Regions from separate parts of the Homo sapiens genome. Here region 2 is linked to region 1. The links come from fine-mapping of genetic effects on gene expression. Tissue or cell type: cerebellum. Region 1 holds a variant in brackets; the other region holds the start of a gene. All regions are shown on one strand. Distances are from middle to middle.

Region 1 (8,109 bases):
TCGAAATGGCCTTGGCGTTAATACACATCAACATGTTTTCTCAATGATGCCCAAAAAGTCAAGACAGCAACAAATGTTTCGCAGGGAAGAAAAGGAACTTGTGTGGCTCCCGAGGCCCTGCGAGCTCAGCTGTAGTGCAGGGCCAGGAACTGCGTTGGTTTCCTTTTTTTTTTTTTTTTTTTTTTTTTTGAGACGGTGTCTCGCTCTGTCGCCCAGGCTGGAGTGCAGTGGCGCAATCTCGGTTCACTGCAAGCTCCACCTCCCGGGTTCATGCCATTCTCCTGCCTCAGCCTCCCGAGTAGCTGGGACTACAGGCGCCCGCCACCGCGCCTGGCTAATTTTCTGTATTTTTAGTAGAGACGGGGTTTCACCGTGTTAGCCAGGATGGTCTCGATCTCCTGACCTCGTGATCCGCCCATCTCGGCCTCCCAAAGTGCTGGGATTACAGGCTTGAGCCACCGCGCCCGGCCTGTGTTGGTTTCTTGTAAGACACGTTGCATGATGTGTGAATTTAAGGAGGATGGAGGTCAAGTGTTTAAAATTTCAGTCCCAGGTGGAAGCAAGCAAAACATGCCAGGAATTCAGCAGCTTGGCTGTGGCCTGAGAACAGGTGAAGGCTGGGCTGCAGAACCGGGAGAACCTGGGAGGCACAGCGGCCTCCTCTCGCCGGTGCTCCTCACTGAGCCAAACTGGTGCGAGGCCCACACTGGTGAGGGGTGGATGGCAGCGCCCGGGCAGCACCCAGGAGGCCGGGCCCCAAGGGACCGTTTCTGTCTGATTGACAGGGACCTTCTGGGCAGCAGCACCTGATGCCTGGGCTACCGAGTGGGGATCGAGGCCCATGTGGCTTGGGGCAGAGGCTCCCAGTCCGCATTCGCCCCGCAGGTCCCAGGGGCTGGGACCACCTCAGGAGCCATATGAGACATGCCAGGGGCTTCTGCCTGAGCTTCCAGCAAGGGCCATGGCCGCGAATGAGGAAGAATGGAAGGCGCCCTGGCCGGGAGGGAGGCCACCTTGGGAGCCCCCAGAGCCGCCTGCATATGCGGGCTGGGTGCTGTCCCCTGTGCGGCCCCAAGACCCAGTTTCCTGATGGATGAGGCGCCGGACCTCAGAGGGCAACGTGGACAGTCGGATGCGGCCTAGGGACGAGGGGGACACGTGGGGCTGATGGAGACATGGGCAGAGGGCACCAGAGGGAGAGCTGGGACTGTGTGCTCCACACACCACAGAGAGATGCACACACACCACACGCACACCACGGACACACACACACCACAGACATACACCACACACACCACATAGACGCGCACACACCACACACACACCACACAGACACACACCCCACACACACACACACCACGAATAAACACACACCACACACACACCACGGACACACACACCACACACCATACATACACCACACACACACCACACAGATACACGCACCACACACACACACCACAGACACCAAAGACACACCACACATACCAGACACACACACACCACACACACAACAGACACACCACACACACACAGACACACACACCACACCAATACACACACCACAGACACACACCACACACACACGCCCGCCCACACCCCATGTACATATACCACACACACACACCACAGAGACACACACCACACAGACACACACACACCACACATACCACAGACACCTACCACACACACAAGCCCCACACACACGCCCCACACCCCACATACATATACCATACAGACACACACCACACAGACACTCACCACACAGACACACACACTACAGGCACCCACCACACACACCACACACACACCACAGACACACACCCCCACACCACAGACACACGCACCACACGCATACCACACACACACCACACACACAGACACCCACATACTACAGACACCCACCACACACACCAGACATACCACACAAACCACAGACACACACCATACACATCACAAACCATATGCACACACGCACACCACACACACACAACACACACTACACACACCAGACACAAAAACACACCACAGATACACATACCACAGACACACGCACACACCACACACCAGACACACACCACACACACCACAGACACATGCCCACACACATCACACACACATCAGATACACATATCACAGACAGATGCACACACACAGCCTCCCCTAGACACACCTCCAACCTCCCACAAGAGACACATATGCCCCACAAACACGTAAACACACACTCACCATACACCTACAGACACACACACCTCAGACACACACACACATCCTGGTTCCCCACTGGCACGCACAGATGTCCTCTCACACATTCACACAGGTATGGGTGTCCCCATGAGCTCACACTGGGCCAGTGTCAAAGCTCCTCCGTGGGCTGACCTGCAGCCAGGCATTCCCACAGCCCCCCAGGAGAGGGCCCTGCCGCCGGGGCCCTTCACAGCCCCACGGAGGACAGGGATGCAGGCAGAAGCCAGCCTGGCCATTCCAGACGTTGGTCTCACCATGTTCTAACCCACCACATTATTAGACGCCATGACACGTGATATGCCACCTCCACAGACACACACCACATCACTCTGCCACTTCATGGAAGTTAGAGCTCTCGCCTTTCTGAGCCGTCTGCCTCCTCCCGTGATAAGTCAGTTTTCTGTGATCAGAGAGTGTGCACATTCTTGCCTCTATGTGAAATCCCACAGCCAGTGAAAAAACCACCATATCTCCCATTAAGTGTGGGGCTAACATTTCCTTTCTGCTGCATTCAAAATACACCCACGGCTTCCATCATGATGTCCTTTCTGTTTGTTCATCCTGGTGTAAAGAATTGCTTCTCCAGGCCTGGTGCTTGTCAGTACCCATCAGTATCAGTAGTCCATCAGCAGCATCCCCCTGCAGGAGAACCTCCCTTCAGATTGGAATCCTGCAGTTGGTTCAACGTGCACCACGCTAAGCCCACCACCAGCTCCCAGAGGGCTCTCATTTAATATGTCTCTGCAGGGACACCTTGCAACACAGGAGAAAGGGAATAATCATCTAAGATTCAGTGGAAAACTGTACCCTTGGAAATTATCTACTAAAGGAGGTGAAAAGCACTTTTAGAGAGTTTTACTTGACACTTCTCAACAGGAAAGAGCGTCATAGGGAAAGCAACAGGAGCAGGGTTAAAATATGCACTGAAGGCAGCAAAAAGCAGAGTGGACCGGGTAGAAAATGGAATCAATGCTGCTGGGGAGAGACAGAAGACTTTCTCCCAGAGAGCCAAGGGAAGGTCGAAGCAAGTGCAGTTGAAAATGATAACACGGAAAATGAAAATCAAACCGCTAAACATTATCATCAGAATGTTAGTTCTCCAAATTAATCCAATCCAATCCACATCCAAATCCCAAAGGAAATTTTACAGACTTTGACTAGCTAATTTCAAGATTCATCTAGGAAAGAAAATCTACAGGAAAAACCAATAATTAGCAGTGTAAAATATCAAAGAATATTTGATAACTGTAGTGCTCAAAACATTGTGGTGTTGGCTCAGAAACATAAAAATTCAATAAATGGAACAAGAGGAAGAGCCTAGAAGTAGGAAATGCATGTATGCATCTTGGTGTATACGGTAGAGGTGACATTTTTATATCAAGGAAAAATTTGTCAATTCAACAAGTGGTTTTGAACTACTCCTTTCAAAAATATTAAATATTCTACACAAAA[A/C]TAAATTTCAGATGTGATAAACACAAAATACTATAAAAGTACTAAAAGATATCACAGAACACTTTTTAAAAAATTAACCCTTTGCCCATTTAGAAAAATAAAGTGCAGCTCACTGCTGGCGCTCATTTACTTTTACATAAACACGCTCTTTGAGGCTGAAGCAAATCTGACTGATTTTCAAGGTAAAAGTAAAATATAAAAACTGTTCTTGGAGTTATTTCTAAACAGAGCTAACATCAGAATCGTCTGAATCATCAGAATTGTCAGTTTCGGAAAAATCAGACTCATCAAATGAATCTTCGGCCAACAACTGTTTGAGAATGATGTTCGTATCACATGTGAGAATGCCACGTTTTCTAGGATTTGACATTTTCAGCGATTTTGTAAATGGAAAGTATCGTTACTAAAAACAGAATGCTATAAATAGAATGTCTTTTGTTTCCAAAGTTGATATATTACAGTGATGCAAAAATAACAAAAGCGAGGTATTTCATGACAAAGTTATCTCGGGGTAAACACTGCAGCCGCAAGTGCCACTGCTGCGTCCTCTCCAAGCAAACGGAAAAGGGGTAATCATGAAATGGGGATAAAAAAGGCCTTCTGTGTCTCTAGACAAAAAGGCAGAGCGGGTTGAGGACAAGCAGCCCAGGACACAGCCCCTTGGCCTTTGAGGAAACAGCAGAAGCAGGAAAGCTCCTCTCACCTCTCTCCACCCTGCTCCGCTGAAGCTGGTCCTGAGACCCTCGTGGGAGAGGTGTGCTCCCTATGCCCAGAGGAAAGGAACATTTTTATCTCTAAAGACAAGGACACAGAGAAGATTCAGAACACACAGGCCCTGCTAAGCCTCCCTGTTCCCTGGTTTATTACTGCTAGGCTATCCACCTCATTGTCCAATCATACGTCCCCATTTCTAAAGGTTCCTGTGGCATGTTAAACTGACATTAAATAGATATGTCTGCTCTTCTCCTGTTAATCTGCCTTTTGTTACAGGGGCCTCAGCCATGAACCTAGCAATGGGTAAGGAAAATTAAATTTTTCCTCCCCTACGACTCTCATCAATGTCTATGTAATGATGTCAAAGGCAAAATGAGAGACAAATGGAAGACTAGGAAAAAATAACTTCAACATAACAGAAATAACTTCAAAATAACAGAGAACGGTTCACTCTCGAGACATAAAGATCATGTTATTATATACACTCTATAATCCAGTAGAAAAATGGGAAAAATTTGTAAGTAGAGAATTAAAAGGAAAAGGAAGATTAATATGTCATCAATGTGAACGTCTGTCCAATCTCACTAATAATCCATGAAATACATTATTTTCCCCATAAGTTCAGTAAGACATTTTTCAATGATAACACTCAATGTTTCTGTGCATATGGTGAAGGGCTATGTTCTGTGGGAATGAAGTGAATGGCAAACAGACATTGTGAGGGTCCCACGTATCCATACGTACACACTCTACAACAGTCTCTCTACCTCAGGAATGATGCGGCCTATCAGGGCCTTCCAATAATTACACGTACAAATTAGCAATTAACATTGGTTACCCCTCTAGTCAGAGGTCTCACAATTTCATGGTTTTTTTAATGCTATATATTCATGAAGCACCAGAGGAAAAAAAGCCAAATCTCAAATCAAAATTTTCCTCTTCCAGGAAGACTTTCCTGGTTCACTCTTTGTGCTGTACCTTCTCTCTCCAACTGCTACTCCTGCTGGATTTTCTCCATTTCTATGGCATGAGATGAACCTTGGTTGTTCTTTTTATCTGTGTAAGATTTTTCAGTCCCTTGACCCTTGTCTAGATTCTCTGAGAGCAGGGCTAGTGCTGACTGGCTTGTAATGCTGTGCTGACCACATGCACATTTTGTATATGCCTTGCAGATAAAAACAGAAATGACTTTTATGTATCCTTAGACTTTGATCAGCTTTCAGATAAACTTAGGAGGGCACTTTCTTTCTCTACCAGTTAGATTAAAGACATCACTCTAGGGAGTAAACACGGGAACGCCAAGTGGAAGAATCTTGTGAAGCTGGAAGAAAGAAGGATGTTTAAGTCCTAGAAACCAGACTCCTCCGCTTAGCAGCAGGTGCCCTCCAGCAAATTACACCCCCTGAACCTCACTTTTGTTATCCATAAAATGGAAACAGGACAACCTTTCTCCCTGAGCTAGGACTGGAAAACGTGACAGTCACACAATGCCTGACACAGTACCTGGCCCATAGTATATGCTCAATTAATATGAATTCCCTCCTAGTATACACTCAATTAATGTGAATTCCCTCCTAGTATACATTCAAAGGCCAGGGACAAAAGGGCCTCATTGTCTTTTCAAACTCCTGTCACTCTTTGTTCAACATAAATTTGTATGTACATTAATACAGAGGCAGGGGCCAGGGGCAGAAAATGGAGATCAGGGGAAAAAAACCAAAAAACCTTTGCAAAATGATTTGAATTTTATTCCTACAGTTTTTGCTTTGACCACAAATGTTTCCACATAAAGATATATAACAAATTCTCTTGTGAAACAAAAGATTTAGAAAAATAGAACATAAAACCTGGAAATGTAAACAACTTTTACATGCTCGGAAACTTCCTCAGGGTACAACTTCTCACTTTTCTTGAAAAGATGTATAAATAGAAACATCACTCCTGAATTAATTATTCTTTCCAGGGAAGAAATTGGCTGGTTTTCAAGATTGGTCTTTCCCAGTGATTCACCAGATGATGTGTAATTGTACTATACGATTTGATGGCTTTTTTTTTTTAACATATCAAAACATGTAACATTGTAAAGTTAACTATCTTTGTTTCCTGTGATTAAGCCAAGAAGTAGTGATTGCAGATGAAGCTCAGGATAGGAAGGAGGTCGGTTCGGGAGAGATCGGCCACCGACTGCGTTCCCTGCATTAAGTTATGGACATCGAGATGATAAATGCTTCTCGGCTGTTGTTTTAGTGCCTTCCTTTGGTAAACCCCATTTGATTGGCATGAACAGTATTAGGTAAAACAGACTGAAGCTGCAGTGCCAATATTTTCGTGACTATTTTGCAATCGGCGTTAATCAATGAGATGGGACTGTAATTGCTGCAATTTCCCATGTCTCTTCCTGGCTCCAGAATCACAGATATAATAGCGCTCCTAAGAGTTTCTGACAATCTGCTATTCACAAATGCTGTATTAAATATACCACATGAAACTGTATCCCAGCACTCCATCTTTTTTTCAAACCCCTCCTGGAATGCTGAAGTCCTGGGGTGGCAGGGCCCCAGGAGGAAGCCGTCTCTCCACAGTCCTCCCCAAGCTCCCCGGTGGAACGTCTCCTTGAAAGCCATGTTGGGATTTTGGCCTCATGGCCTCATCACATTTCATGAATTCAACTTCGTTTTGGAAATTTTTCAATCACTTTGGTGACATTGACAATTTTCCATTTCATTATAATGCTACAAAATTCAAGCACCTGCTTTGCTTTTCAAAATGTAAATCTACTGAAAAATCAGAGAAAAAGCAGGTGTTCTACCTTAATTGACAGAATTGAATCTCCTATCAGAAAACAAGCCTCCAAATCAAAACAGAGACTCCAAAGTACCCGCCGAGGCTGGGGGAATGTGGCTCAAGCCCGTCGCTGAAGTCAGTTTGGGGCACCATAGAGATGCCTTCCCGGATGGGTTTTAAGCCTAAGGAACAACAGGGTGTTAGATCAGAAATGAAACAGAAGCGACTCCTCCACACCTAAAAGAAGAATTCAGTGAAACATGGACACCAGTGACTCACAGGCTGCCCCTTCAGGGTATTTGCGTCTGAGATGCGGGGCTGTCAGTGGCCTTCAAGCACACTGAGCTTGGAATCAGGTGCAGAAATTCTATTCCATGGAGAAAAATGCTTCCTGGAAAACTTAATTGTGCTTTTAAGTTTTTTCACCCCTTAAATTCACAGAAGACTCTGTACGACTTTAAGAACATTTTTCCCATCCTAATTCCCTGGCAATCTCCTCTTGCAAATGTCAGTGTTATTCAGCCTGATTAACTCCAGCAATTTCATCTTTCAGTGATGTTCTGCTCTCAAACTGCCAAACAAAGATTCTTCTATTTCATTATTCAAAATATTAAGTGAAGCTCAAAAGCCACAATGATAGACTTTGGGGTAAAGAAATATTGCTCTGTCTGTCAAAAAAGCTGCAAGTTATTTCATTACATAAAATAGTACTTAGGGCATCTAAACCATCAATTCTCAAAGAACAGAAAGGGTATGGCTAAATCAAATCCCAATCATCCATTTTCATCAAATGCATGCTTCATCACCCATCAACCATTTTACCAGAACTTAAAAAAATAATGTAATTAACTACTCTAATTTTATTTCTCCAGCTGCTGTTCTTATTTGGGTAAAGTTGCTAACGAATAAACT
Region 2 (8,109 bases), 970 kb before region 1:
TGAACTAAGTTGACCCAAAGAGAGGGTAAGTCAGGTGAAACCATCCCAAGTTTGTGTTATGCCATCCCGATATTGAGTGGTCTAATCTCTCAGCTGGTGTAGTACCAGCATTAAGGTATGTGGACTTTTACTGGAAAGCTCTTCCTATGGCTTTTGCTTTGTAAAGTATCATTCATAGGCCAGTGATGCACACTTGCCTTCATCATACTAGTGCTAAGCACCAATGACTGTCCTGAGAAACACAGACACATTTCTGATATTCTGTCTACTCTTGTCCTTGAAGAGGAGCTGCCACCATGGTAGGCCAGAACCACCAGAAAGGGGCGCAAGGCCACACACCTAACGAGTGTTGTCCTGTAATTTACTAGCACAGGCCCAAGCCTACTGCAAGAAGATGTTTGTTTCATGGGCAATGGCTGGTGATGGTAGCAACAAAACAGAAGAACTAGGGACAAAAAGAAGGAAGTGTGGTGGGAACTTGTAAAGGAAGACCTTCCTCATCTACTGACGATGATTATATTAAGGGTTTGTCTAGATACAGGCCTGGTCAGGTGTCTTGAGAAGGCTGATCGCCTCACATGTTGTTTTCTTCTCATCCTTGTTGGTTCTGGAGAGTTTTAGTTTTAGATCACCAATTTGAGATGAAGTCCAAATTGACAAAGCAGCTTTCCTTGCATGGGTGGCAGGTATCCAGGAATCAACTCCTTTAAGCTTAGTGGCACAAGGGTTGGTTAGGAGTCCCTGATAAGGTTCCTTCCTCCTTGGTGGAGAAAGTCCTTTAAAGGATGCTGTTTCCTACAAAGTCTCCTGGCTGAAGTATGTGTTCCTTGAGTTTTTGCTTCTTGGAGCTCACTGTGGAAAGAATCTTTTACTAAATAACAGTTTTTACTTAGGTGCCTTATGAGGCTGCTGCAATAATACAACCTGTCCCTTTTTAATATCATCGATTTACAATTTCCTGGAGACAATTTCATAGGTCTGTCCGTTATAATTTCAGATGAAGACAGTTGGTGTTTACCCATAAGGGCTGATCTTAGGTGAAGCAAAAACAAGAAAGAGCTTCCAGTCAAGGGAGTTTTAAAACTTCAGTTAATTTTGCCAAATGAGTTTTGATTATTCTGCTTGTGCATTCTACTAACCCAGATGACTGGGGTGATAGGCACAATGGAAATGCTGGAAAATGGGCCAGATTTTGCATACTAACTGGATTATTTGTGCAGTGAAATGAGTGCCTCTGTTGCTATAAAGTTCTTGAGGAACTCCCCAAATCGGAATAATTTTCTCTAAGATAATTTTACTTACCGCCAAGGCTGCTGCTCTTCTGCATGGAAATGCTTCTACCCATGAGAAAATACACAAACCATCACTAGGATGTGCCTGTATCTTTGTGATGGTGGTAGCTGAAAAAATCTAGTTGCCATACCTCGAAAGGGCCTTCTGGTAAAGGAAAATGACATGGAGAACTGGGTCAAGGTTTCCTTGCATTATATTCTGGGAAGACAGCCCTGACTGTATACCCGTGAGCAACAGTTGGAGAAGGTTTCCGACAACATTGTTCTCCTCAAGAAATCAATAATCTTATCAGGGCTCCAGTGAGTCACATCGTGTATGCACGTTAAGAAAGATGGCTGGACCGGGCGCGGTGGCTCACGCCTGTAATCCCAGCACTTTGGGAGGCCGAGGCGGGCACATCACGAGGTCAGGAGATCGAGACCATTCTGGCTAACAGAGTGTAACCCCGTCTCTACTAAAAATACAAAAAATTAGCCCGGCATGGTGGCGGGTGCCTGTAGTCCCAGCTAGTCAAGAGGCTGAGGCAGGAGAATTGCGTGAACCCAGGAGGTGGAGTTCACGCCATTGCACTCCAGCCTGGGCAACAGAGCGAGACTCCATCTGAAAAAGAAAAAAAAAAAAAGAAAGATGGTTGTAACTTAGTTGGAAGTATGAGTAGAACATTTGGTCAAACCGTACATCAGTCTCAGAAGCGCATGTGCCACTTTTGTTTCCCAATTTTCTCGTCCTGTTTTTGGAGATTTAGATTGAGCTAATTTTACATAAAAATCTAACTTCCTTAAAGGCCAAAATGGTTTGATCTTTTTGTTCAGATATGTTTATGGCCACCCTGTTTGCTATACTACCTGCTAACTGGCTTATCTTGCTTTTTTGAGTGTCTTTGAATGGCCTGGAATCTTGATAATGGCTAATGATTTTGGCAATAGTATGGCTTGCCATAATTCTGAAACAAGGCACCCATTTTTTTGTGGGCTGACTAGAAAAGGTTAAAAATCCTTTGTCTCCATAGCATTCCAAAGTTATGAGCTACTCTATAAGCATACCTGCTATTGGTATAAAGATTAGCAGTTATTCCTTTTGCCAACTGACAGGCTCTAATTAATGCTATTAACTTTGCTTGTTGAGATGATTGCTCCTGGAAGACAAGCACTTTCTATTTCTTTGGGCAAAGACGCTATGGCATAACCAGTGTAATACCTTCCAGCTGCATCTTTAAGTAAGAGCCATCTGTAAACCAAATAACATCAGCGTTAGTGAGGGGGGTTCTTGCATGTCTGTCCTAGGAGAGAGCTGGTCAGGTAAGATGATGCAGTCATGCAGCGTTTCAGCTGAAGGTGGGGGAGAGGGTGGCAGGATTTAGATGACATCTGGACATTGTAGTATGCGGCTGAGAGAATAACTTCATGAGAAGCCAGTTACTAACTGATCGTGTTGAGTGTGATGCAAGTTTAGAAGCGTTTCCACAGAATGCGTATCGAAGGCAGTGAGGGGTGATCGCATCCTTGGTGGTTTGGTTGCTCTTGCAGAGCTGTGATGGTTGTTGCATCATGCAAGGAGACAGTCCTTTAGCTGTAGGGTCTAGTTGTTGACTGTAATACCCTACAAGTCTGCTTTGTCTCCATGTTTTTGAGTCAGAACGACAACAAACGTTTTACTTGCCAACAATTCTGCAACCTGAGCTGGACCCAGGCCCGACGGGCTTTGCAGACAGTCACGTGTGTGGCTGGCCTCAGCTGGGATGTTGGGATAGCTGGGTTGTCCTCCCTCTTCCATTTCATAGGATCTCGGGATCTCTTTCCATCATTTTTCCTTAGGAAGTTGGCCTTTTAACATGGTAGCTCACGGCTCCCAAGCGTGCACCCATGTGTAAGCTTTAACGATTGCACTGAAGTTGGCTTGGTGTAATTGTCTGCTTATCGATCTTTTTCTCGGCAGGTTTCCTGTTCTCTCACTCCGTACGTGATTAATTTATTTTCCCAGGACGTCCCAGTTACCCGGGCCGGGGGGGACCGGCCCGCGCGGCAGTGCGAGGTCGGGCCTGAGCAGGGCGCCTGTTGGATAGCGTAGCAGGTGAACTGCCCACTGCACGTTAACAATCGTAACACCCTGCACCCTTTAAACAGGCTTCTTTTTTCTTTTCTTTTTTAAACAGGCTTCTTTCATCAGAAGTGTGAATCAAACCAATGCCGTTAACACACACACCCCCACACCCACACACCAAATTATGGCCTTTATGGTGCTACCGGCCACCAAGTGCCCTCCAAGCAAGCCCGTCACGCTCGCGACTCCGGGGCCGCTCTGTCCGCGCAGCTCGAGGGCCTCGGGCCACCTGTCGCCCGGAACTTTCTCGGCCGACCGGGCAGCAGCAGGGGGAATGCACCAGACAGGGCCGGGAACGCTTAGGCAGCCGCACGCGCGGCCGCGGCGCAGGGAAGAAGCGGGGCATTGTGGGAAGCGCCCGCGCTTTCGGCGGGTTCCGTTAAAATGGCGCCCTGGTGGCCGGCGGCGCCCGCGCCTTAGCCTGTCAGGAGCAGGGAGCTTGCGGGGCGCAGGAAGGGCGCGGGCCGCGGTCCCTGCGCGTGCGGCGGCAGTGGCGGCTCTGCCCGGACCACCGTGCACGGCTCCGGGCGAGGATGGCGACCCCGGACCAGAAGTCGCCGAACGTTCTGCTGCAGAACCTGTGCTGCAGGATCCTGGGCAGGAGCGAAGGTAGAGTGGCCGGGCGACGCGAAGCCCGCAGACCCGTCCCGGGGGCTGCTCCCTGCGCGTGCAGCCCTAATACGTTCCGGGGCTGGAGGAACGAGGATGCAGGGCCGGGCAGAGGGCTGGGGGACGGGCCGAGGACGTGGGGCCCGGACGAGGGAGCGGAGGGCTGGGGTTCGAGGGTCAGGGAGCCGGGGAGGACAGCGGAGGGCTGGGGGCCAGGACCGGGGCGGAGGGAGTGGAGAGGCCAAGGCCGGGGCGAGAACGCCGGGGCGGGAGGCGGGAGGGCGGAGCCGAGCCGGAGCGGGCTGAGTCACCGCTCACTCCGCTCGCGGGTCCGTCAGTGAGGACGGGAGGAATGCCAGCTCGCCAATTTATCCCCCTTCTCTGGTGTCACGCGCCGTGGGAGGGCGCCTCTGCGCGCCTTTGGGTTCATCCTGTGGGGTGGAGAGAGCGGCTGCGCCGCGGAGGTGGATGCGGGGTGCTGGAGTGTCACATCATCGTCCCTTTTCGTTAGGAAAGTTTAACAGGCTTGAGTATTATGGGAAGAGGGTGTTAACGACTGTAACTGCCGTGTTTTCCTACTGTTTAAAGGGTTGAAGGTTGGATTTGATATAAAACTATTCTGGGAAAGTTCACATGGCGAATATTGTTACTAATAAGCAAAACTAATCCTATACGGTAGGTAAAACCATTTTGTAGTCGAGGTACTTTGAAAGAAATGGTACAGGATGCCATTTCTTGCTCCTTGTTTTGGCCAGGTTGGTGGGGCAGAGAGTGAGGATGCACCATGAGGGAATTTTCTGAGTAATGGAAGCAACTGAGTTACATCTTAAGCACCAAAATGTGGAAAAGAAGTTACTCAATTTTTGAAGGAAGACTTCAAAGTTACATTTAAAGTACTGAGAATGCATTTTGACCTTTCATGCTTCATGACAATTACTGTACATAATTCATTGGATGTTCTATGATAATCTTGGGGCAATCATGAATAATTTTGTGTCGCTATTAAATGAGTGACTTCACACAGTTCTTGCTGCATCTTGTAAAGTTTGATTCTATCACTTTATTTATCTAAGAAATCTTTGAGGACAACCCCGTCCTCAAAGTTCCCCCCGGGAACTGTGCTAAGTGCTGGTGATGCAGATGCACAAGTCATTCCTCCCACAGATCTGACAGACACTCTACTGGAAGAGACAGATGATAAACCAGCCATGTTAATTAGCAATAAGTACTGTGGCGAAAAAGTAGGGTAAAGGAATAGAGAGGGAAGAGGCAGGTGAGGGAAAGCCTCTGAGATATTTAAAGAGACCTGAATGGAGTAAGGGAGGGCCATTTGAACATCTGGGGAAGGTTCTGAGTAGAGAGAACCAGTGGAAAGGTCTTGAGGTATGAGCATGGCCTGCCATCGTTTGTTTTTGTCATTAGCAGACTGAGTTTCCTTTCACATGTTTCATGTTCCTCGTCATAGGGGGAATCAGATAAAACTAAGATTGTTAGGACTTACCCACCTTAATGTCAGTGTTTTCCTTATACCAGTGGTTCCAGAGTTTTTTTTTCTAGGGATAAACCACACATTCATACATTCCCATTGTTATAATTGGATTTTGAAATTCATTCATCATGAGCTAGAATGATATTTCTCAACCTAAGAACTTTTTTTTTTTTTTGAGACAGAGTCTCACTCTGGTCGCCCAGGCTGGAGTGCAGTGGTGTGATCTCGGCTCACTGCCAAGCTCTACCTTCCGGGTTCATGCCATTCTCCTGCCTCAGCCTCCCGAGTAGCTGGGACTACAGGCGCCCGCCACCACGCCTGGCTCATTTTTTGTATTTTTAGTAGAGACGGGGTTTCACTGTGTTAGCCAGGATGGTTTCGATCTCCTGACCTCGTGATGCACCCGCCTCGGCCTCCCGAAGTGCTGGGATTAGAGGTGTGAGCCACCGCGCCCAGCCAAAAACTTTTTTTTTTTTACATTGAAGATTCTTTGATATAAAAGTTTTGTCCCTTCTAAGAGACTGAAAAGCTTCTTTTCAGCAAAATTCTGTATCCTACTATCTTCCCATTTAGAACTGTGTCTAAAAGTGGGCTCTCAGATCCTGACAGGGTCCTCTCTGAATAAATAATTTATTTATTTATTTATTTGAGATGGAGTCTTGCTCTGTCACCTAGGCTGGAGTGCAGTGGCATGATCTGGGCTCACTGCAACCTCTGCCTCCTTCAAGTGATTCTCCTGCATCAGCCCCCCAAGTAGTTGGGATTACAGGTGTATGCCAGCACTCCTGGCTAATTTTTGTGTTTTTAGTAGAGATGGGGTTTCACCATGTGGCCAGGCTGGTCTCCAACTCCTGACCTCAAGTGATCTGCACCCCACCCCCCTGCCGCTTGGCCTCCCAAAGTGCTGGGATTACAGGCACGAGCCACTGCGCCCGGCCCTCTCTGAATAAATTATGTCATGAAGTCCATTAAAGGTGATGCTCTTTTTGCTATGTTCTAGATAGCTAGGATTGTCAAGCATTTATGATATAATTTTAAATTATGCTGCTATTTACTGAAGAATTTATAAATAGTAGCTTACCTTGTTCTTTCATTTGTTATACCTTAGTGAGCAAAGGAGCAATATTAATTACTACCTTTACAATATTTGGTGTTAAAAATTTGATTAGTGAGCATTTTATCTGGTAACTCCATAGAATATTTGATTAATTACCTTATTCTTTGATGACATATTACAATTGGCCTTATGCTTTTGTAATACATTTTTTTTAGTACTATGAAATCAAGGCATAATAGGTACTTGTTACTTTTAATGAGAATTTCATATGAATCACATTTTTATAAGGTATCTTTTAAAAAATTATACAGTTGACTTCAAGGGACCTTCAGAAGCAAAGCACCTACATATAATGGTGCTTGACAGTTTTACAAAGTTAGCATGACCATGATTTACCACCTTTTCCAACTTATAACATCTGTGAATTTGCTTGAAACACATACTGCCAGCCAGTCATAGTCAAATCCTGTCTCCATATCCCTGCCCCTCCTGGGAGCACATTTATTTATTATGTCTTTGCGTAATTATTCTTATCATTGGAAACAGTGTGCTTGATGTTAATGTTCAAATCTGTCAGAGGTAACACTTCTTTTCATAGCTACTTTGTAATCCTTTTTCTAACTATGAGGTAAAGAATACATAAAGAGGAATTTATATTAGATAAGTATTTCATCATAAATGTTCAGGTATGACTACAGTACACAGCATATTCGAAGATGATTGCCATAATATGCAAGACCTCTATGAGTGTCCTACAAGCCACTATCAGAAGATAAAGGATTATTGTTTTGGTGATTCAGTACCACAAGTGGTGTTGCTATTGGTTTCATGATTTTCCAAAATGGTAAAGAGCTTTTGATGAAGTTCCAAATACCATGTGATCTTCCTTTGGTTATATAATTACATTCTTGGGAAGATCAATGTGTATTACATGTATATTAAGATATACATTAGATGTGTATTAAAACTTCAGAGTTTCAGGCTTTGTTTCAAGTTGTACTTGATGGATTTACTATTTTTCAATAAGTTAAAATTTAAAAATTGTTTTGGCTTAAATTTCTAATATGGTAACTGTGGATAGATATAACCTACATAAACAAAAGCTTTTTGGAGTTCTCAATCGTAATAGTGTAAAGAAGCCCTGAGACCAAAGAGTTTGAGAACCACGCATCTAGAGTAATGTTTTTGTTGTTTTAGAGCATTGCTTTTCAACTAGAGCCATGCATTGGAATCGCCTGTGATTTCACAAGAACCTGATAACGTTGATTGCCTGTGGGAAGGGGAGCTGGTGGCCAGTGGTTGAGAACAGGACTTTTTATGGTATCTAACTTCATGCCTTTTCATTTTAAACTCTCTAAATGTGGGACTTACTCAGAATTAATATTGTGGGCTTCATCTCTAGGGCTTCTGATCCTGTAGGTGTCTGTTGGAGCTTGGCATCCGAAACATTAAAATGCGTGATAAGTTACTCTGACTTGCATCTGGAGTCAAGGGTGGCTAGTGTATGTGCTCTGTTCCTCTACTAAGCACTGTGGCTTACTCCCAACGCCCTCCTGACCCC

The links. PIP is the estimated chance that this variant, and not a neighbour inherited with it, causes the effect.
Region 2: TUBGCP3 starts here. The variant in region 1 is fine-mapped to the expression of TUBGCP3 in cerebellum (GTEx, PIP 0.99).

The regions. Positions count from the first base shown.
Region 1 is chr13:111,615,042-111,623,150 of GRCh38, reverse strand. The region is part of intron 1 of LINC02337 (long intergenic non-protein coding RNA 2337); the gene reads right to left. Among named protein-coding and RNA genes, the nearest start is that of LINC02337, 23 kb to the right of the region's middle. RefSeq lists enhancers at 507-1,031, 1,032-1,557, 6,410-7,431. The variant A/C (reference allele first, on the strand shown) is at 3,700.
Region 2 is chr13:112,583,798-112,591,906 of GRCh38, reverse strand. TUBGCP3 (tubulin gamma complex component 3) reads left to right here and starts at 3,754. Exons shown (of 22, transcript NM_006322.6): 1 at 3,754-4,002. The coding sequence starts at 3,927. It overlaps LOC124903251 (a long non-coding RNA gene), which reads right to left and starts at 3,721. Exons shown (of 2, transcript XR_007063945.1): 1 at 2,491-3,721; 2 at 1-1,893. RefSeq lists an enhancer at 2,939-3,758 and silencers at 3,824-4,043, 4,074-4,133, 4,164-4,283.